Regions from separate parts of the Homo sapiens genome. Here region 2 is linked to region 1. The links come from fine-mapping of genetic effects on gene expression. A gene starts in region 1. The other region holds a variant in brackets. All regions are shown on one strand. Distances are from middle to middle.

What was found. PIP is the estimated chance that this variant, and not a neighbour inherited with it, causes the effect.
Region 2: its variant is fine-mapped to the expression of DAGLB in whole blood (TOPMed, PIP 0.95).

What each region holds. Positions count from the first base shown.
Region 1 is chr7:6,441,603-6,452,133 of GRCh38, reverse strand. DAGLB (diacylglycerol lipase beta) reads left to right here and starts at 4,180. Exons shown (of 15, transcript NM_139179.4): 1 at 4,180-4,386; 2 at 6,030-6,181. The coding sequence starts at 4,292. RefSeq lists an enhancer at 3,923-3,972.
Region 2 is chr7:6,421,525-6,432,055 of GRCh38, reverse strand. DAGLB (diacylglycerol lipase beta) reads left to right here. Exons shown (of 15, transcript NM_139179.4): 6 at 1,449-1,576; 7 at 5,942-6,068; 8 at 7,221-7,304; 9 at 10,252-10,329. Among named protein-coding and RNA genes, the nearest start is that of DAGLB, 21 kb to the left of the region's middle. RefSeq lists an enhancer at 7,037-7,536. The variant G/A (reference allele first, on the strand shown) is at 4,868.

The DNA.
Region 1 (10,531 bases):
GGAGCCCGAGGCAGGTGGATCACGAGGTCAAGAGATCGAAACCGTCTTGGCCAACATGGTGAAATCCGTCTCTGCTAAAAATACAAAAATTAGCCGGGCGTGGTGGCCCATGCCTGTAGTCCCAGCTACTAGGGAGGCTGAGGCAGAAGAATCGCTTGAACCCAGGAGGCGGGGGTTGCAGTGAGCCGAGATCGCGCCCTACACTCCAGCCTGGCGACAGAGCGAGACTCCGTCTCAAAAAAAACAAAAAAAACAAAAACAAAAAAAGAGGCAGGAGAGGCTGGGTGCGGTGGCTCACGCCTGTAATCCCAGTACTTTGGGAAGCTGAGGTGGGCGGATCACTTGAGGTCAGGAGTTCGAGACCAGCCAAGGCCAACATGGCAAAACCCTGTCTCTACTAAAAATACAAAAATTAGCTGTGCATGGTGGCATATGCCTATAATCCCAGCTACTCAGAATGCTGAGGCAGGAGAATCGCTTGAACTCAGAAGGCTGAGGTTGCAGAACTCAGATCGCGCCATGGCATTCCCACCTAGGCCACAGAACAAGACTCCATCTCAAAAAAAAAAAAAAAGGAAATGAGGCAGGAGAATCAGGAATGAGGGTAATCAATGGTTAACAAGGGTTAAGGCATAAGCAAAAGATCAGCAGGTGCAGCCAGTTCTGGGCAAGATAAGGCAGCATAGAGGCCACATCTGCACTTCTGTGATAACAAGACAGAAGTTTCCACTTCAGCCATGAGTGTTAACCACATTCTTTCTGCTTAATGAAGACCCTAATTGAGGGGTCTCTTGAGCTGTGTGGTCTCTTGAACTTCGTGTCAATCAATCTGTGCTTTTTACGCCATTTGTTTGTCTTTTGTTGATTTGTTTTTTGTTGTTGTCGTTGTTGCTTTGTGGGGTTTTTGTTGCAATTTTTATTTATTTATTATTTTTGAGATGGAGTTTTGCTCTTGTTGCCCAGGCTGGAGTGCAGTGGTGTGATTTTGGGTCACTGCAACCTCCATCTCCCGGGTTCAAGCAATTCTCCTGCCTCAGCCTCCCGAGTAGCTGGGATTACAGGCATGTGCCACCACATCCAGCTAATTTTTAGGAGAGACGGGGTTTCGCCATGTTGGCCAGGCTGGTCTTGAACTCCTGACTTCAAGTGATCCTCCTGCCTCAGCCTCCCAAAGTGTTGGGATTACAGGCATGAGCCACCGTGCCTGGCCTAGTTTTTGTATTTTCAGTAGAGACAGGGTTTCGCCATGTTGGCCAGGCTGGTCTTGAACCCCTGACCTCAGGTGATCCACCCGCCTCGGCCTCCCCAAAGTGCTGAGATTATAGGGGTGAGTCACCGTGCCCGGCCTTGTGTTGCAATTCTCGGTTCAACGCGCAAGCCCCTGACCAACTCACAGCCAAGACTTTCCATCCAGTAACAGAAAACCTGCAGGAGGACTCTTCCTGGCAGAGGAAACACAGAATGTAGAACCCCTGGAGCAAAAATGACCCTGATGTCTTTTCAGAGGGGGAAAAGGCGGCAGGCAGTGGGGTGGGTGATAGAGGCAAATAGTAACCAGGGAGACAGATAAATGAGCCCTTACAAACTTTTGATGTGTGACTACCAGGGAAAGGCCTTTGCCAGGGGCTGGAGTGTAATTTTTTTTTTTTTTTTGAGACGGAGTCTTGCTCTGTTGCCAGGCTAGAGTGCAGGGCGCGATCTTGGCTCACTGCAACCTCCGCCTCCCAGGTTCAAGCGATTCCCCTGCCTCAGCCTCCGGAGTAGCTGGAATTACAGGCATGTGCCACCACATCCAGCTAATTTTTAGGAGAGACGGGGTTTCGCCATGTTGGCCAGGCTGGTCTTGAACTCCTGACTTCAGGTGATCCTCCTGCCTCAGCCTCCCAAAGTGTTGGGATTACAGGCATGAGCCACCGTGCCTGGCCTAGTTTTTGTATTTTCAGTAGAGACAGGGTTTCGCCGTGTTGGCCAGGCTGGTCTTGAACCCCTGACCTCAGGTGATCCACCCGCCTCGGCCTCCCCAAAGTGCTGAGATTACAGGCGTGAGTCACCGTGCCCGGCCTTGTGTTGCAATTCTCGGTTCAACACGCAAGCCCCTGACCAACTCACAGCCAAGACTTTCCATCCAGTAACAGAAAACCTGCAGGGGGGCTATTCCTGGCAGAGGAAACACAGAATGTAGAACCCCTGGAGCAAAAATGACCCTGATGTCTTTTCAGAGGGGGAAAAGGCGGCAGGCAGTGGGGTGGGTGATAGAGGCAAATAGTAACCAGGGAGACAGATAAATGAGCCCTTACAAACTTTTGATGTGTGACTACCAGGGAAAGGCCTTTGCCAGGGGCTGGAGTGTAATTTTTTTTTTTTTTTTGAGACGGAGTCTTGCTCTGTTGCCAGGCTAGAGTGCAGGGCGCGATCTTGGCTCACTGCAACCTCTGCCTCCCAGGTTCAAGCGATTCCCCTGCCTCAGCCTCCCAAGTAGCCAGGACTACAGGTGCGTGCCACCACACTTGGCTAACTTTTTTTTTAAATTTTAGTAGAGACGAGGTTTCACCATGTTGGCTAAGATGGTCTCGATCTCCTCCTGACCTCGTGATTCGCCCACCTTAGCCTCCCAAAGTGTTGGGATTACAGGCGTGAGGCACCGCGCCTGGCCTGCAATGTAATTTTATGCACAAAGTGCAGCCTTGCAAAGTCCCAGGCAGGGTGCAGGCTTTATCTGAAGGTTCACAAAGTCACCCTGGCTGCTGAAGAGGGCACAGCAGAATGAGAAAGCACAGTGGGGTGATGAGCCCAGGCAGGAGATGAAGGTGGCTCAGACCAGGGTGGGGCAGTGGGGGTACTGAAAAGCGCTCAGACTCCACCCCGCCAGCTGCAGGGTGGTTTCAGACCCTGAACTCGAGGGGTTCCTAACACGGGCTCCTTACAGCAAGGGGCACAGATGGAAGCAATGTTGTCCCATGCTTGCAAGTCTCACAGAACGGGATATGAGTCCCACACCTGCCATTGACAGCCTGGGTCTCTAGGCTAGCTAATTCCTCCAGGCCTGAAGCGTCCCTCCTTATAAAATGAAAATTTCGGTCAGGTGTAGTGGCTCACGCCTGTAATACCAGCACTTTGGGAGGCTGCGGCGGGAGGATGGTTTGAGGCCAGGAGTTCAAGACCGGCCTGGGCAACAGAGTGAGACTCCGGTCTCTACAAAAAATAGGAAAATTTATGGAGAAACCCCATCTCTACTAAAAATACAAAATTAGCTGGGCATGGTGACACATGCCTGTAATCCCAGCTACTCAGGAGGCTGAGGCAGGAGAATCGCTTGAACCCAGGAGATGGAGGTTGTGGTGAACCAAGATCGCGCCATTGCACTCCAGCCTGGGGCAACAAGAGCAAAACTATGTCTCTAAATAAATAAATAAATAAATAAATAAATAAATAAAAATAAATTAGCCGGGAGTGTGGCACGTGCCTTTGGTCTCAGCTACTCAGGAGGTTGAGGTGGGAGAGTCGCTGGAATCCAGGAATTCAAGGCGGCATTCAGGAGTTCAAGGCTGCAGTGAGTCATGATTGCGCCACTGCACTCCACCCTGAACGACAGAGCCATACGCTGCCTTAAACAAACAGACAAACAGGGCCGGGCGCAGTGGTTCACGCCTGTAATCCTAGCACTTTGAGAGGCCCAGGCGGGCGGATCACTTGAGGTCAGGGGTTCGAGACCAGCCTGGCCAACATGGTGAAACTTCGTCTCTACTAAAAATACAAAAATTAGCCGTGGTGGCGCGCTCCTGTAATCACAGCTACACCGGAGCCTGAGACAGGTGAATCGCTTGAGCCCGGGAGGCGGAGGATGCAGTGAGCCGAGATCACACCCACTGCACTCCAGCCTGGGAACAGAGCGAGACTCCGTCACCAAAAAAAAAAAAAAAAAAAAAAAAAAAAAAAAAAAAAAAAGGAAAAGGAAATATCACCAGAACGGATATCACTGCACTCTTCACGAAAAAGAAAAAGAAAATACCAGAACGGATTTCACCGACCGGCAGACCTGCAATCGACTCAGCCAGCGCCTTCCGGATCAGCGTTTCTGCGCAGGCGCAGACAGCTCCGGCGGAAGAGGCGGTGTAGGGCTCAGTGCGCTTGCGCCGATCTCGGCCTCAGCGTGAGCATGCGCAGGTCCCCGCCCTCGCTGCGTTTGCGCTTGAGCGCCGATAATTTGGTGGCGGCGTCCGGAGGGTGCTGGTTTGTTCTCGGTGAACGGCGCGCGGGGTCTCTCCTGAGTGCGAGCTACGGGACCTTCGCCATGCCGGGGATGGTACTCTTCGGCCGGCGCTGGGCCATCGCCAGCGACGACTTGGTCTTCCCAGGGTTCTTCGAGCTGGTCGTGCGAGTGCTGTGGTAAGGACGGCGGCTACGGGGGCGGTGGAGCCCACCGGAGAGGGAGCGGGGGGCGAGCTGTCCCTTGAGACGGTGACAGAAGTGGCTTCCCAAGCACTGTCGCGGTCCCAGCGCTGGCCACGCATCCTCTTATCGAGTTCTCACCACTGCCCGAAGAGGTGGGCAGTGGTGCTGTGTCCATTTGACGGATGACAAACCGAAGCCCCCAGAGTGTGTGGGCTGACCCCGGGGGACAAACAGGGGGTTTCGAAGTCCGCGCAGCAGGACGCGAGCACCCCTTTGTGTGCAGCGCCGAGACCTGGCCCTGGGGTGCCACGAGGGTGTTACCGCCGGCAAAAGCCTTGGCCTCGAGTTCTCCTTTCTTGAGGCGGGAGCAGCCACTTGTGCCCTTCCTTCCCTTTGTACGGGGCACTTGAATCTGCAACACGAAGGATAGGAAAAAATACCGAGCCGGTTGTGGCTGCATTTCGTGAGAAGCAGACAGGCTCAACATACAACGCTGTTGTCTTTCAAAGTGTGGAATCAGTGGGAAGTGGCATTGGTACCTGAAGTCTGTTCCCAGAGGATCTGTGCAGGGAATGAATCATTGTTATGCAAAAGTAGATTCTTGGCTGGGCGCCATGGCTCACGCCTGTTATCTCAGCACATTGAGAGGCTGAGACGGGAGGATTGCTTGAGGGCAGGAGTTTGAGACCAACCTGGGCAACATAGTGAGACCCCTTTTCTTTTTATTTTTTTGAGACAGGGTCTCACTCTGCTACCCAGGCGGGAGTGCAGTGGTGCGATCACCACTCACTGCAGCCTCAACCTCCTGGGCTCAAGCGATCTTCCCACTTCACTCTTCCAAGTAGCTGGGACCACAGACTCGTGCCACCACGCCCAGCTAACTTTTTCTATTTTTTGTAGAGATGGAGTCTCACCGTGTTGCCCAGGCTAGTGTCCAACTCTTGTGCTCAAGTGATCCTCCTGCCTTGGCCTCCCAAAGTGCTAGGATTACAGACGTGAGCCGCCGTGCCGGGCCTAGATCTTTTATTGTTGGCAATTATATTCCAGGCCAGGTGCAGTGATTCATGCCTGTAATCCCAGCACTTTGGGAGGCCAAGGCAGGAAGATCACTTGAAGCCAGGAGTTCAAGACCAGTCTGGGCAACATAGCAAGACCCTGTCTCTACAAAAAGAAAATTATATTCCAAAGTGAACCTTGCCTTGTTTTGGAAAATATTAACTCCTTTTATTTCTTTTTTTTTTTTTTTTTTTTTTTTTTTTTTTTTGAGACGGAGTCTCATATCGTTGCCCAGGCTGGAGTGCAGTGACACGATCTCGGCTCACTGCCACCTCCACGTCCCAGGTTCAAGCAATTCTCCTGTCTCAGCCTCTCGAGTAGCTGGGACTACAGGTGCGCACCACTACGCCCAGCTATTTTTTTTTTTTTTTTTGTATTTTTCGTAGAGACAGGGTTTCACCATGTTGATCAGGATGGTCTCGATCTCCTGACCTTGTGATCCGCCCACCTCACCCTCCCAAAGTGCTGTGATTACAGGTGTGAGCCACCGCGCCCTGTCCCCTTTTATTTCTTTGTATCATGTTCTACACAGCAGCTCCTTGGATTTCATTTCTGACCCTTCCCTTTTTTTTTTTTGCCAGGTGGATTGGCATTCTGACGTTGTATCTCATGCACAGAGGAAAGCTGGACTGTGCTGGTGGAGCCTTGCTCAGCAGTTACTTGATCGTCCTCATGATTCTCCTGGCAGTTGTCATATGTACTGTGTCAGCCATCATGTGTGTCAGCATGAGAGGTAAAAAGTAGCCTTTTCTATTTGATACCTATTTTTTTATAGCTTTATTGAGATATAATTCACATACCATACAATTCACTTCTGTAAACTTTCCAATTCAACAGTTTTTAATATAATCACAGAGTTGTGCAGCCATCACCATCATCAAGTTTATACCATTTTCTTCACTCCTGAAAGAAATCCTGTACCAGGCGGGACACAGTGGCTCACACCTGTAATCCCAGCACTTTGGGAAGCCGAGGTGGGTGGATCACTTGAGGCCAGGAGCATGAGACTAGCCTGGCCAACACAGTGGAACCCCATCTCTACGTCTCTACTAAAAATAGAGAAAATTATGTTGGTGCATGCTTGTAATCCCAGCTGCTAGGGAGCTGAGATCATGCCACCGTACTCCAGCCTGAGTGACAGAGTGGAGACTCTGTCACAAAACGGAAAGAAAGAGATCCCATACCCATTAGCAGTCACTCCTCATTTTCCCCAAACTCTCCCAACCCTAAGCATTCACTAATTTGCTTTCTGTCTGTGTACATTTGCCTATTGTGGACATCATATAAGTGGAATTTATTCACTGTGTGGCCTTTTGGTCTGGTTTCTTAAGCTTAGCATAATGTCTTCAAGATTCATCGATGTTTTAGCATGTATCAGTACTTCATTTTGATGGCTGAATAAGAGCATCGAATGAATGGACCACATTTTATTTATCCCTTTGCCATTTGGTAGGCATTTGGATTGTTTCCATTTTTCACCTATTACGAATAGTGCAGCTATGAACATTCGCATACAAGTGTTTATACAGACATGTTTTCATTTCTCTTGAGTGTGTACCTAGGAGTGAATTGCTGGATCATGTGTTAATGCTCTGTGAAACCTTTTGAGGAACTGCCAGACTTTTCCAAGCAGCTGTACCATTTTACATTCCCACCAGCAGTGTATAAGGGTTCTAATTGCCCAACGCTCTTATTATATGACTTGTTAATTATAGCCATCCTAGTGAATGTGAAGTGGTAGCTCATGATTTTGTTTTGTTGTGTTTTGTTTTGTTTTTTTGAGACGGAGTCACACTCTGTCACCCAGGCTGGAGTGCCATGGCGCAATCTCGGCTCACTGTAACCTCTGCCTCCCGGGTTCAAGTGATTCTCCTGCCTCAGCCTCCCGAATAGCTGGGGCCACAGGCCATTTGTTTTTTGTCTCATGGCTTTGAGGAACATTTCTTTGGTGACTAATGATGTTGAGCATCCTTTCATTTGCTTATTGCTCATTTGTGTATCATTTTTGCGGAAATGTCTGTTCAGATCTTTTGCCCAATTTTAGACTAGGCTATTGATCCTTTTATTTTTTATTTTTATTTTTTGAGATAGAGTCTCCCTCCGCTGCGCAGGCTGGAGTGCAGTGGCGTGCTCTCTGCTCACTGCAGCCTCCGTCTCCTGGGTTCAAGTGATTCTTGTGCCTCAGCCTCCCATGTAGCTGGGATTACAGGCACCCGCTACCACGCCTGGCTAATTTTTGTATTTTTAGTAGAGATGCGGTTTTACCATGTTGGTCAGGCTTGTCTCGATCTCCTGACCTCACGTGATCCACCCGCTTCGACCTCCCAAAGTGCTAGGATTACAAGTGTGAGTCACCGCGCCTGGTCCCTTTTATTTTTACATTGTGAGGGTTACAACTATTTTGTTGTTGTTAGAGACAGTGTCTTGCTCTGTTGCCCAGGCTAGAGGGCAGTGGCGCAATCATAGCTCACTGCAGCCTCAAATACCTGGGCTCAAGCAATCCTCTCTTCTCAACCCCCAAGTAGCTGGAAGTACAGGCACGTGCCACCATACCTGGCTAATTTTTTTTATTTTTATTTTTTGTAGAGACAGGGTCTTGCTATATAGCTTAGACTGATCTTGAACTCCTGGGCTCAGGTGATCCTCTCGTCTCGGTCTCCCAAAATGCTAGGATTACAGGGGTGAACCACCGCGTCTGATCACCTATTCTTCATATTTTTTATATGTGTTACAGTTTTCTGTAGATAACCATTTATCTGAGAATGTCTCCAGAAGTGTTGGAAACCTTCCCTGTTGGATTCCTCTGCTTCATAGGATGATGTGAGCACTGTGGTGACTAATAAAGGAATGCATTCTTAGAAATGATTCATTGGTCAGAGGCAGGGCTGTGTGACATGCCACCATCCGCCATGTTTTAGTCCTTTGTCACTGCTTGAATTGGGATGGACGAGGTATGCATATCAGATATATGCTGGTGGTGAGGTGCACTGGGAGGCGCTGGTGATACAGTGAGTGACGGCATCAAGATCTTGACAGTTTGGAATAAAGGACTGAAATGTAAAAGGTGTTAGCTCATAGGAGCAATGTAGAGGGTAGAAATGTTAGCAGCAACATCTTTCATGAGAAAAAGACCTTAGGGTTTGGGATGACCAGCAAGAGTGGCATGTGCCTGATTACCACAGTAACATAGAAAACAGAGCTCTGTGTATTTTATTTTACTTTTTTCTTTTGAGACAGAGTTTTGCCCTTGTTGCCCAGGGCTGGACTGCAATGGCGTAATCTCAGCTCACTGCAACCAACCTCTGCCTCCCAGATTCAAACAATTCTGCCTCAGCCTCCCAACTAGCTGAGATTACAGGCACGTGCCACCACACCCAGCTAATTTTTTTGTATTTTTAGTAGAGACAGTTTCTTTTTTTTTTTTTTTTTTTTTTTTAGTAGAGACAAAGTTTTTTGTTTGTTTTGTTTTGTTTTTTTTGTTTTTTGTTTTTTTTTTCCGGATGGAGTCTCGCTCTTTCACCCAGGCTGGACTGCAGTGGCACTATCTCTATCTCGGCTCACTGTAAGCTCCGCCTCCCGGGTTCACGCCATTCTCCTGCCTCAGCCTCCCAAGTAGCTGGGACTACAGGCGCCCGCCACCGTGCCTGGCTATTTTTTTTTTTTTTTTTGTATTTTTAGAAGAGACGGGGTTTCACTGTGTTAGCCAGGATGGTCTCCATCTCTTGACCTCGTGATCCGCCCGCCTCAGCCTCCCAAAGTGCTGGGATTATAGGCGTGAGCCACTGCACCTGGTCTAGTAGAGACAAAGTTGAACCATGTTGGCCAGGCTGGTCTCGAACTCCTGACCTTAGCTGATCCACCCACCTCATCCTCCCAAAGTGCTGGTATTACAGGTGTGAGCCACTGCACCCAGCTAGCTCTGTGTATTTTAGTATGCCTCTAGAAACATCCACGCAAGGAGGCTGGATTGATGGAGGCTCCACGTTTGTGTTGGCCCCCAAATGTAGGCTGTCATTGGTGCCAGATGCTTAAGGAAAGAAAGAAACCATGTGTACAGTGTGGCTTCAGCGCTGGGAAGCTTCTTATTGAAGGTGAAGTATTGAGACTGGTGTCATTTCAGATACAGCATTATCTAACTTATTTGCCCTTTTTTGTTCATCTCACATTCTGGTTAGACCACTGAGTTTGTGGCTGTAATAGCAGGGTCAGAGTGGAAGCAGTCGGTGTACTTTTTTTTTTCCTTACATGTTTGTTTGTGTTGAGATATTTTTGGTGTTGGGACGTCTTTACCTCCCTGTGAGGGATGCTCATATTCACTCCGTTCCCTCTTCCTAGACACTCGTACAATGCTTGCATCATCATGTACTTGTGGTCAGAGCTCAGAAGTCATCTGTGGGTTGTCGGAGTGTTCTGGGTTGTCTATCCCACAGCCTCCTCCAAACAGAACCCCGTTTTGTTTTGCCCCCATCCCACACATACCAAGTATGCGTCAGAGAAGCAGACCCTAGGCCGGGCTCACGTATTGGTGATTGGTTCAGGAATGGACACGTGACCCAGTTTGGCCCAGTGAGAGTCAGGGAGAGTTTGGTGGAAGGTTCTGGGGAAGTGCTTCCTTGCCCCTCTAGGAAGGATCCAAAAGCCATTTATCGTCGCTCTCCTGGCTGAAGCTGTGTCTCCACTCACAGCGCAGGGCAAGCTGACATACAGGGCAGGGGAGAGCTGGGAGAAGCACAAGGAGATGGAGGCTTGTCTCGGTCAGGGCAGCCCCGATGCCGTCTTGCTTCTGCACTCAGTCGCTCGAGTCATTGTGGCCCTTCCTGCTTTTCAGCCAGTTTGAGTTGAATTTTCTGTAACTTGTGGGTAGAGATATCCCAGCCAAACTGAAAACAGTATTTTATAAAAACATGTTCGTTTAATTGTCAGTTTGTTGCACATAACATTATATGCCTTATTAAAAATATGTATTGAAGGCCAGGCGCGGTGGCTTACACCTGTAATTCCAGCACTCTGGGAGGCTGAGGCGGGTGCATCATGAGGTCAGGAGATCAAGACCATCCTGACTAACACGGTGAAACCCCGTCTC
Region 2 (10,531 bases), 20 kb after region 1:
TTTAACTTTTATTTTAGGTTCAGGGGTACATGAGCAGGGTTGTTACACCGGTAAACTCATGTCACGAAGGTTTGTTGTACAGATTATTTTGTCACCCAGGTACTAAGCCTAGGACCCTACAGCAGTTTCATTAGCAGCAGGGTTGGAATCTGATTGGCGGCTTCCACTGGTTGTATTGCATCACCTGTCAGGTGAGGCATCTTCGTTATCAACTGGAGTTCAGGTAGTGGGAACCCATTCCTGGCCACTTTATCATCCATCATATCTTTATTTTTTATTTTATTTTTTGAGACAGAGTCTCTGTCACCCAGGCTGGAGTGCAATGGCATGATCTTGGCTCACTGCACCCTCTGTCTCCTGACTTCAAGCAATTCTCCTGCCTCAGCCTCCACAGTAGCTGGGACTACAGGCGTGCACCACCATGCCCAGCTAATTTTTGTATTTTTAGCAGAGACGGGGTTTCACCGTGTTGGCCAGGCTGTTCTCAAACTCTTAGCCTCAAGTGATTTGCCGGCCTTGGCCCCCCAAAGTGCTGGGATTACAGGCGTGAGCCACTGCATCCGGCCACATTTATCATATCTTTGAAGGCTTATGTTTTAGGAAATTTGCTGTTCAATTCTATGCATTAGAACAATTCCTCCTGGGATGGGGACTGCGATTCTCCCTGGGTGTGTTTGCTTTCTTCTCTGGGGCTGGGGGCAGAAGCAGTTCAGCTTTGCTTGGTGATAATTTTCCTGCCACAGGTTGTTATGTTTTTGAGAAAGAAAATTGCACGTAGACGGTATGTATCTTCGCTGCTCCGGGTTAAGCCACTCAGTTCTTGACAGCTCGTGTGTGGCAGTGGCATGGAAATGTACTAGTTTCAGGCATCTAGATAGGAAGCGCCGGCTCATTTCAGCAAAAACAGCAGAGAAGTCATTGGAGTGTTTTTTACTGTTAACTTCCCCGTGCTTGCTGTGTTCCTATAAAATGAGGAGTCAGGCTGGGCGTGGTGGCTCACGCCTGGCTTCCCAGCACTTTGGGAGGCCAAGGCAGGTTGATCACCTGAGGTCGGGAGTTCGAGACCAGCCTGGCCAACATGGTGAAACCCCGTCTCTACTAAAAATACAAAAATTAGCCGGGTGTGGTGGCGGGTGCCTGTAGTCTCAACGACTTGAGAGGCTGAGGCAGGGGAATTGCTTGAACCTGGGAGGCGGAGGTAGCAGTGAGCTGACATTGTGCCACTGCACTCCAGCCTGGTGACAGAGCGAGACTCTAAAAAAAAAAAAAAATGAGGAGTCCATGTCATCCTTATTGAAGGAGCAGTTTTGCCTGTGGGCGTCTGAGAGTTCTATTCAACGAAGGAGCAGGAAGAGTCAGGAATGAGTTCAGGTTTCAGGTCTCAGTGTGTTGATCCTCTGTGTCAGGAGTTCCCTTAATAAACAGTAGTTTTTGTCCTTCTCTTGTAGGAAGCTGATCTGGATGCAGAATTAGAAAACTGCCATCATTACATGCAGTTTGCAGCAGCGGCCTATGGGTGGCCCCTCTACATCTACAGAAACCCCCTCACGGGGCTGTGCAGGATTGGTGGTGACTGGTGGGTTGGCACAGTCTGAGCCTCCATAGCCATATTTCCCTTAAAAAAAAAAGCTATTTTGAGATATTTCAAAAATTTGAAAGAACAGTGCAAAGAACTCCCATGAATCCTTTACCTAGAGTCACCAGCTGTGACTCATCTGGTCACATGCGCTGTATCTCTCTCTCTCTCTCTCTCCCTCCCTCCCTCCCCCCTGCATATATATATATATATATATATATATATATATGCACATGTATTTTTTTTCCCCGAACCATTTTATTTTTCTCTTTTTGAGACAGAGTTTCACCCTTGCTGCCCAGGCTGGAGTGCAGTGGCGTGATCTCAGCTCACCACAACCTCCGTCTCCCAGGCTCAAGCGGTGCTACTGGCTCAGCCTCCTGAGTAGTTGGAATTACAGGTGCCCGCCACCATGCCCGGCTAATTTTCATTTTTTGAGATGGAGTTTCACTCTGTTGCCCAGGCTGGAGTGCAGTGGCACAATCTCGGCTCACTGCAAGCTCCGCCTCCCTGGTTCACGCCATTCTCCTGCCTCAGCCTCCCGAGTAACTGGGACTACAGGCGCCCGCCACCACTGCTGGCTAATTTTTTGTATTTTTAGTAGAGATGGGGTTTCACCGTGTTAGCCAGGATGGTCTCGATCTCCTGACCTCGTGATCCGTCTGCCTCGGCCTCCCAAAGTGCTGGGATTACAAACATGAGCCACCACGCCCGGCCACACCCGGCTAATTTTCTATTTTTAGTAGAGACGGGGTTTCACTATGTTGGCCAGGCTGGTCTGGAACTCCTGACCTTGTGGTTCACCTGCCTCACCCTCCCAAAGTACTGAGATTACAGGCGTCAGCCACCAGGCCCGGTCTCAGGTAATTTTTGTATGTTTAGTAGAGACAGGATTTCCCCATGTTGACCGGGCTGGTCTCAAACTCCTGACCTCAAGTGATCTGCCTGCCTCAGCCTCCCAGAGTTCTGGGATTACAAGGTGTGAGCCACTGTGCCCAGCCCCAGTAATACCCTTTTTAGCAATTTTTTTCTCCAATCCAGGATGATGCGTTACATCTAGTTGCTGTGTCTCTTTGGTCTCCTTCAAGTTTTAAGTTTCTCAGCCGTTCTTTCCTTTCATGATATTGACATTTTGAAGAGGACAGTGCAGATATTTTGTAGAAGGGCCTTCAATTTGCATTTGTGTGATGGTTTCCCCATGATTAGATTTATGTTTTGCATTTTTGGCGGGAATGGTCCATGACAACCATCCTTCCTAGTGTATCATATCAGGGGATACATGATGCCAGTTTGTCCCATTTCTGGTTATATTAACATTGATTGCTTGGCTGAGGTGGTGACTGCCAGCCTTGAGACCATTTAAATATCTTGTCCCAGGCCGGGCGTGGTGGCTCAGACCTGTAATCCCAGCATTTTGGGAGGTCGAGGCCAGCGGATCACTTGAGCTCAGGAGTTTGAGACCAGCCTGGGCAACCTGGCAAAACTCCATCTCACTAAAAATATAAAAATTAGCTGGGTGTAACAGTGTGTACCTGTAGTCCCAGGTGCTTGGGAGGCTGAGGCAGGAGAAACACTTGAGCCCAGGAGGCTGAGGTTGCAGTGAGCTGGGGTTGCACCACTGTACTCCAGCCTGAGTGACAGAGCAAGACGCTGTCTTAAAAAATAAATTAAATAAATATATATGTCTATATCCCACCAGGTGCAGTGGCTCATGCCTATAATCCCAGCACTTTGGGAGGCCAAGGCGGGCTGATCACCTGAGGTCAGGAGTTCAAGACCATCCTGACCAACACGGTGACACCCCGTCTCTACTAAAAATACAGAAATTAGCTGGACATGGTTGCACACACCTGTAATCACAGCTACTCGGGAGGTTGAGGCAGGAGAATCGCTTGAACCAGGGAGTTGGAGGTTGCAGTGAGTGGAGATCACACCATTGCCCTGCAGCCTAAGCAACAGAGCAAGATTCTGTCTCAAAAAGAAAAAAAAAAAAGAAACCAAAACAAAACAAAAAACAAGTAAGTAAATGTCCTATCCCTCTCTGAATTCTCATCTGGCAGTACAGCATCCATTGATTCTTGTCTGAATCACTTATTACCAGGATGGTGGCAAAATCATGATTTTTCTTTTTCTTTCTTTCTTTCTTTTTTTTTTTTTTTTTTTTGAGACAGAGTCTCAGGATCCTGGCTCACTGCAACCTCCATCTCCCAGGTTCAAGTGATTCTCCTGCCTCAGCCTCCCGAGTAGCTGGGATTACAGGCCTGCACCACCATACTCGGCTAGTTTTTTGTAATTTTAATAGAGACAGGTTTTCGCTGTGTTGGCCAGGCTGGTCGAACTCCTGACCTCAGGTGATCCACTCGCCTTGGCCTCCCAAAGTGGTTGGATTACAGGCATGAGCCACCGCACCTGGCCAAAATTGTGATTTTTCTAAATTCATCATTTCTTCTACATTAATTGTCATTCTCCTATAAAAAAGAGCTTTTTATCCCTACATCTTACTGTCAATATGGATTTATAGATTCTTAAATTATTCAGTGGGTTGTAATTATGACTGTTTATTTTGTATTAAGTACAGTGTTTATTTGATGCTCAAAATGTTCCAGATTTTGTCCTGCAGACTGGCTCCAGTGTTCTTTTCATATGACCCCATCATGTTCTGAGCACTTCCTAACCTCTGGATTTTGCTTTTTCTTTTTTTGGGACTGTTGCCCAGGCTAGAGTATAGTGGTATCATCACGGCTTACTGTAACACCATACCCTCAACCTCCTGGGCTCAAGTGATTCACCTGCCTCGGTCTCCCAAAGTCCTGGGATTACAGGTGTAAGCCACCACGCCTATGTATTTATTTTAAAGATCATGAGATTTTACTAATATCTTTTTTTTGTTTGTCTTTTAAGAGACGGGGTTCTCTCACCTCAGCCTCCCAAGTAGCTGGGACTACAGGCATGCACTGCCAGACCCAGATAATTTTTAAAAATGTTTTAAATTAATAAATTTCTTTTTAGAGACAGTTTTGCTTTGTGGCCCAGGCTGGTCTCCAACACTTGAGCGATCCTCCCGCCTCAGCCTCCCAAAGTGCTGGCATCATGGGTGTCAGTCTCCTGGCCCTGATATCTTTTAATTCTAGTCCAAAGCCACAGAGTTTCTCTTTGCTTCTCCACATCATGTCTGCAAAGAGAAGCTTGGCTCCCAGCAACATCAGCGTGAGTTACCCATGCTCAGTCCCCTATTACTAAGAAAATAGTTTCAGAATTGCTATACCCAGTTCCACTACAAAAAGGGCATCT[G/A]CTAAGTACAGTTTGCGATGTGTTTGTAGTTTTTTTAGTTTTTATTTTTATTTATTTTAATTTAATTTAATTGTATTTTTTGAGACGGAGTCTCACTCTGTCACCTAGGCTGGAGTGCAGTGGCGCGATCTCAGTTCACTGCAACCTCTGCCTCCCAGTTGCAAGCAAGTCTCCTGCCTCAGCGTCCCGAGTAGCTGGGATTACAGGCGCCTGCCACCACACCTGGCTGAGTTTTGTATTTTTAGTAGAGGTGGGGTTCCAGCACGTTGGCCAGACTGGTCTCGAACTCCTGACTTCAGGTGATCCACCTGCCTCGATCTCCCAGAGTGCCGGATTACAGGCATCAGCCACCACGCCCGGCCTCTTTTTGTTTTTTAAACGTAGAGCACAGTACTCAAAAGTTACTTCTATGATTTCTTGTTTATTTTCTACGGAGTTGGCTGTGCTGTTCATTTGGACAGGTTTGCTTTACCTGCTTCTGTTGGCATTCAGTTTTAGGGACTTGCCCATCCTTGTTGATGAATTTTTTGAATATAGAAATCATTAACATGATGCCAGAAGTCAGAACTCTATCCAAGAAGTGTACACAGAGAGGTATTATCTTTAATAAGCCATTCCGGGCCCAGTGCAGTGGCTCACGCTTATAATCCCAGCACTTTGGGAGGCCAAGACGGGCAGTTCGCCTGAGGTCAGGAGTTTAAAACCATCCTGGCCAACATGGCGAAACTCTATCTGTACTGAAAATACAAAAACTAGCCGGGCATGGAGGTGCACGCATGTAATCCCAGCTACTCAGGAGGCTGAGGCAGGGGAATCGCCTGAACCTGGGAGGCGGAGGTTGCGGTGACCTGAGATTGTACCACGGTACTCCAGCCTGGGTGACAGAGTGAGGCTCCATCTCAATCAGTCAGTCGATCAAATTAAGTTTTAAAAAGCCATTCCATGTCAGCCAGGCTAAGTCCTGAGAATTGTCCGCTCTGGTCCTCGCGTCTCTGGGAACATGTGGCAGTGAGGATGGACGTTCCTTGCCAAGTGGCTCTGTTCGGCATAGTAACGTCTTTGTCCTCTTTTTAGCTGCAGAAGCAGAACCACAGACTATGACTTGGTCGGAGGCGATCAGCTCAACTGTCACTTCGGCTCCATCCTGCACACCACAGGGCTGCAGTACAGGGACTTCATCCACGTCAGCTTCCATGACAAGGTGTGGACGCTGCAGACAGCGGCTCTTCACTTCTTTTGGGTCCTGGAGCTGTTAGAGATTCTGATGGAAGTTATGAATTATTCTTCCCGTAATTCATAGACACACAAACACACTTCTAAGTCCTGTGTACTATTTCAGAGGGGCCACAGACTCTGGGGGAGCCACACAGATGCCCTGGTGCAGGTTCAGAACCCAGGTTTCACATAAGATAGAGACGTCTTCATCAGAGATAGCGCGCTGTGTTTCTTACCTCGCCCTTCTGTTGAGGAGTGAAATCCCTCAGTATTAATGCCGCATGGCCTTCTGGGATTCGTATCGTCGTCCTGGGTTGTGAGTGCCATCAGTAGTGTAGTGTAGCAGGTCTGGCACTCTGGGGGGGTCACTGTCACCTTGGGAGAAGCTGCAAAAGCCAGCTGTGGGCCGGGCACAGTGGCTCACGCCTGTAATCCCAGCACTTTGAGAGGCCGAGGCGGGTGGATCATAAGGTCAGGAGTTCGAGACCAGCCTGGCCAATATGGTGAAACCCCATCTCTACTAAAAATACAAAAATTAGCTGGGCGTGGTGGCAGGCGCCTGTAGTCTCTGCTGGTCGGGAGGCTGAGGCATGAGAATCACTTGAATCCGGGAGGCGGAGGTTACAGTGAGTTGAGATTGCGCCATTGCACTCCAGCCTAGGTGACAGAGCAAGATGCCATCTCAAAAAAAAAAGCCAGCTGTGCATGGCTGCAGTGCTGCGTGTTCAGTGTCGCTCGCTGTCTCTCCAGGTGATTCTCATAGGCACCGCAGCGGGAGGCCTGCTGGCGCAGATCGGCGGCTCTCCCACTTTGCTGCCCAGTAGAACCTCTTGAGGAGCTTTTAACACTGCTGAGGTCCAGGCCGCACCCTGGGCCAGTTCAATCCGAATCTCTGGGGAGGTCAGAGAGAGGCTAAGAAAACAAAGATCCTTTTTCATGTAGAGCAGCATGGTTTATGAAGGCCAGTCCCTGCCAGAGTGGGTCCCACTGTGTAGTGAGCGTGAGTGGAGAGGCGGTGTCCCCTCCTCTCTGTGCCGCAGGACTTGGGCTGTCATTGCAGACACTGCAGGGCTCCGACTTTGCGTGCTGGTGCGTGTGTTCACTGTTTAGGCCCCATGCTTGTTTCTTGCTCCTGCAGGTTTACGAGCTGCCGTTTTTAGTGGCTCTGGATCACAGGAAAGAGTCTGTTGTGGTCGCTGTGAGGGGGACCATGTCTCTGCAGGTAACGTTGGAACCTGACTTTCCAGCCCTGGGAGTGGGTGCGGGAGCGGGAGCCCACAGCTGCTCGGCTGGGGAAATCCGTCAGTAACCGCATGAGACACAGGGGAAAATGGTGAGGACAGAAAATGAGGATGTGAGCCTGGGGTTGGGAAATACTCCCTTTGCAAAAAGGGATGAAGCTGTTTCATCTTCACTGAGAACTGTCAGCAGCAGAGCGGCCAGCAGGTTGGCCCCCCCGCCACAGGAGCTCCCAGAGGGCACCTGCTTGACCCCTCCCTGCCTAACTTCCCTGAGCCCAGCCAGGCCCCACACCCGGGAGCCCTCCCGGGGAATTTCTGCACCAGAGCCAGATGGCGGCAGTGAGTCAGTCTTGCTGCAGAGAGTCACGCCCCTGGCCACCAGCCCCGCTGGAGGCTCCCGGTTTGGATCCTCACAGGCCCTCGTGGCCTGCCGTTCTCCAGGTGAGGTCAGGACTGCCGACATCCATCCCCAGCCCATGGCCCCTCTTCTGTCTTCCTCAGTCCATACTCCTGGGCCCCTTGGAGATGCCAGGTGACGCTTTCCTTGTCAAAGCTTTCTTCTCTCCATTCCGGTTTCCTCCTGGCCACTCCTCAGTCTCACTTCCCGTTCTTCTCTGCTGACCCAGAAAATGAGTTGAGACTCCAGAGCCTGTGTGCTCAGCCCTCTTCTGCTCCTGACTGGCTCTGGGGTAGCCCCCCTAAGTCCAGGGCCAGGACCCCAAACTTGCATCTTCAGGAGCCATCTGTGGGTCTCCCGGGAGGCACCAGAGAAGCCACACTTCCCACAGGGCTGCTCCTCCCGGGGGGCGCCCTGTTCACGTCAGCTCTGCCATCGTCCCCCCATTGCCCATTTAAGAAGCAGTGGCGCCTGTAATCCCAGCACTTTGGGAGGCCAAGGTGGGTGGATCACAAGGTCAAGAGATCGACACCATCCTGTCCAACATGGTGAAACCCCGTCTCTACTAAAAATACAGAAAATTAGCCAGGCATGGTGGTGGGCTCCTGTAGTCCCAGCTACTCAGGAGGCTGAGGCAGGAGAATCACTTGAACCCGGGAGGCGGAGGTTGCAGTGAGTCGAGATTGCACCACTGCACTCCAGCCTGGAGACAGAGTGAGACCCTGTCTCAGAAAAAAAAAAAAAATTAGCCGGGCATGGTGGCGGGAACCTGTAATCCCAGATACTCAGGAGGCTGAGGCAGGAGAATTGCTTGAACCCGGGAGGTGGAGGTTACAGTGAGCTGAGATTGCGCCATTGCACTCCAGCGTGGCGACAGATCGAGACTCTGTCTCAAAAGAAGCAGTGGCGTCGTCTGTGGTTTCTGTGCGCCCTGTCTGCTGTGTGTGAACTTCCTGCCCCAGCCTATGTGGCCCTCTCTCCATTTCCAGCGCCATGGCCCCGCTTTTGGCCCCAGTCCTCTAGCTTCCCATCTCCGTCCTTGTCTAGTCTCATCTCCCCAGTCTGTTTGATTGTTTGTTTGTTTCTAAGACAGGGTCTTGCTCTGTTGCCCAGGGTGGAGTACGATGGTACAGTCAGCTCACTGCAGCCTCCACCTCTTGGGCTCAAGTGATCCTCCTGCCTCAGCCTCTCAAGTAGCTGGGAATACAGGCATGTGCCACTACACCCAGCTAATTTTTTCTATTTTTGTAGAGACAGGATCTCACTATGTTGCCCAGGCTGGTCTTGGACTCCTGGGCTGTAGCCATCCACTCACCTCAGCGTCTGTCCATTGTCCTGTCCACCAAGGACTCACTCTAGAACACGGATCGGATCTTACCGTCCTGCTCAGATACCTCCAGTGGCTTCCCATTGCCTTTATGGATTTATCTTTAAATGTTCTTTTTTTAATTCCAACTTTTATTTTAGATTCAGAGGGTACATGTGCAGATTTGTAGCTGGGTATACTGTGTGACGCTGAGGTTTGGGGTACTGTTGATCCCGTCTCCCAGGTACTGAGCATAGTACCCAGTGGTTAGGTTTTCATTCCTTCCCCTGCCCTCCTCTAGTAGCCCCAGTGTCTATTGTCCCCTCTTTGTGTCCATGAATACCCAATGTTGAGCTTCCACCGTCGCATCAGACCATGCGGTGTTTGCTTTTCTCTGTCTGCGTTAATTCGCTGAGGATGATGGCCCGCAGCTGCATCCGTTGCTGCAGAGGATGTGTTTTTGCGCTTTTCTATGCTTGGGCCCACTGTCTTTAACATCAAGTTTGTGTTTCTTATCACAGCTCTGGGTGCTTTACCCAGCAGCCTCCCCCATGCCCACTCCGCAGCCTGGACGCTGCTGCCGGGGCCTCCAGCCCAGCAGCACAGCACTCGCCTGTGGACCTTTTCAAATATGGCTGGTGTGGAGCCGTGCCCAGGGCCCCAGCCAGCGGGTCCTGCTGCCCCTGTTGGGAGGACGCCGCCTGTCCTCTCTGCTTTCACAACAACCTCTTCCTTCGGGTCTGGCTGTGGCGTCACCTCCTCCAGGGAGCTGCCCCTGCGCCTGGGCTGTGCCCCATCCTCTGACTCGGCACTGCCTGGCCCTTGCTGTGGTGCTAGTCTAGGCCTCCTCCTCTCCACGGTTTCACCTGTTACGGGGCTCCTGAGGACGGGAACCAGGCTTTGTTCAGAACCCTGGCACAGGTTCTGTGCCACGGGGTCCTTAGAATACGTGTGTGTGATGGGGAAGGCGCAGGGCGTGTCTTAGGCACACTCCATGGTCCCCTCCACCCTTCACGCCTGGCCCAGAGCTGGTCGTGCCATCAGGGCCCTCAGGAGCCACCGCTGGGTTTCCCTCTTTAGTTTAGGGTTCAGTCCCAGGACCGAACTAGGAGATGGTGCCATCCCCGCCATCCTCCACAGAAGTGTCAGGAGCAGGGACCACCTGTCATTCTCCCACCCTGCCCATCACAGGCTGACGGCCGCTTCTGCAACGCCCTTTTTACAGGATGTCCTTACGGACCTGTCAGCGGAGAGTGAGGTGCTGGACGTGGAGTGTGAGGTGCAGGACCGCCTGGCACACAAGGTATGAGCGCGGACTCGTGTGTCTTGCCTGTGAATGCTGACCACACAGAAGATGGGTGCCTCGGGTCAGGGACTGCACAGAGCCCGCGCTGCCTGCGCCTCCCGCGCTGCCTGCGCCTCCCGCGCTGCCTGCGCCTCCCGCGCTGCCTGCGCCTCCCGCGCTGCCTGCGCCTCCCGCGCTGCCTGCGCCTCCCGCGCTGCCT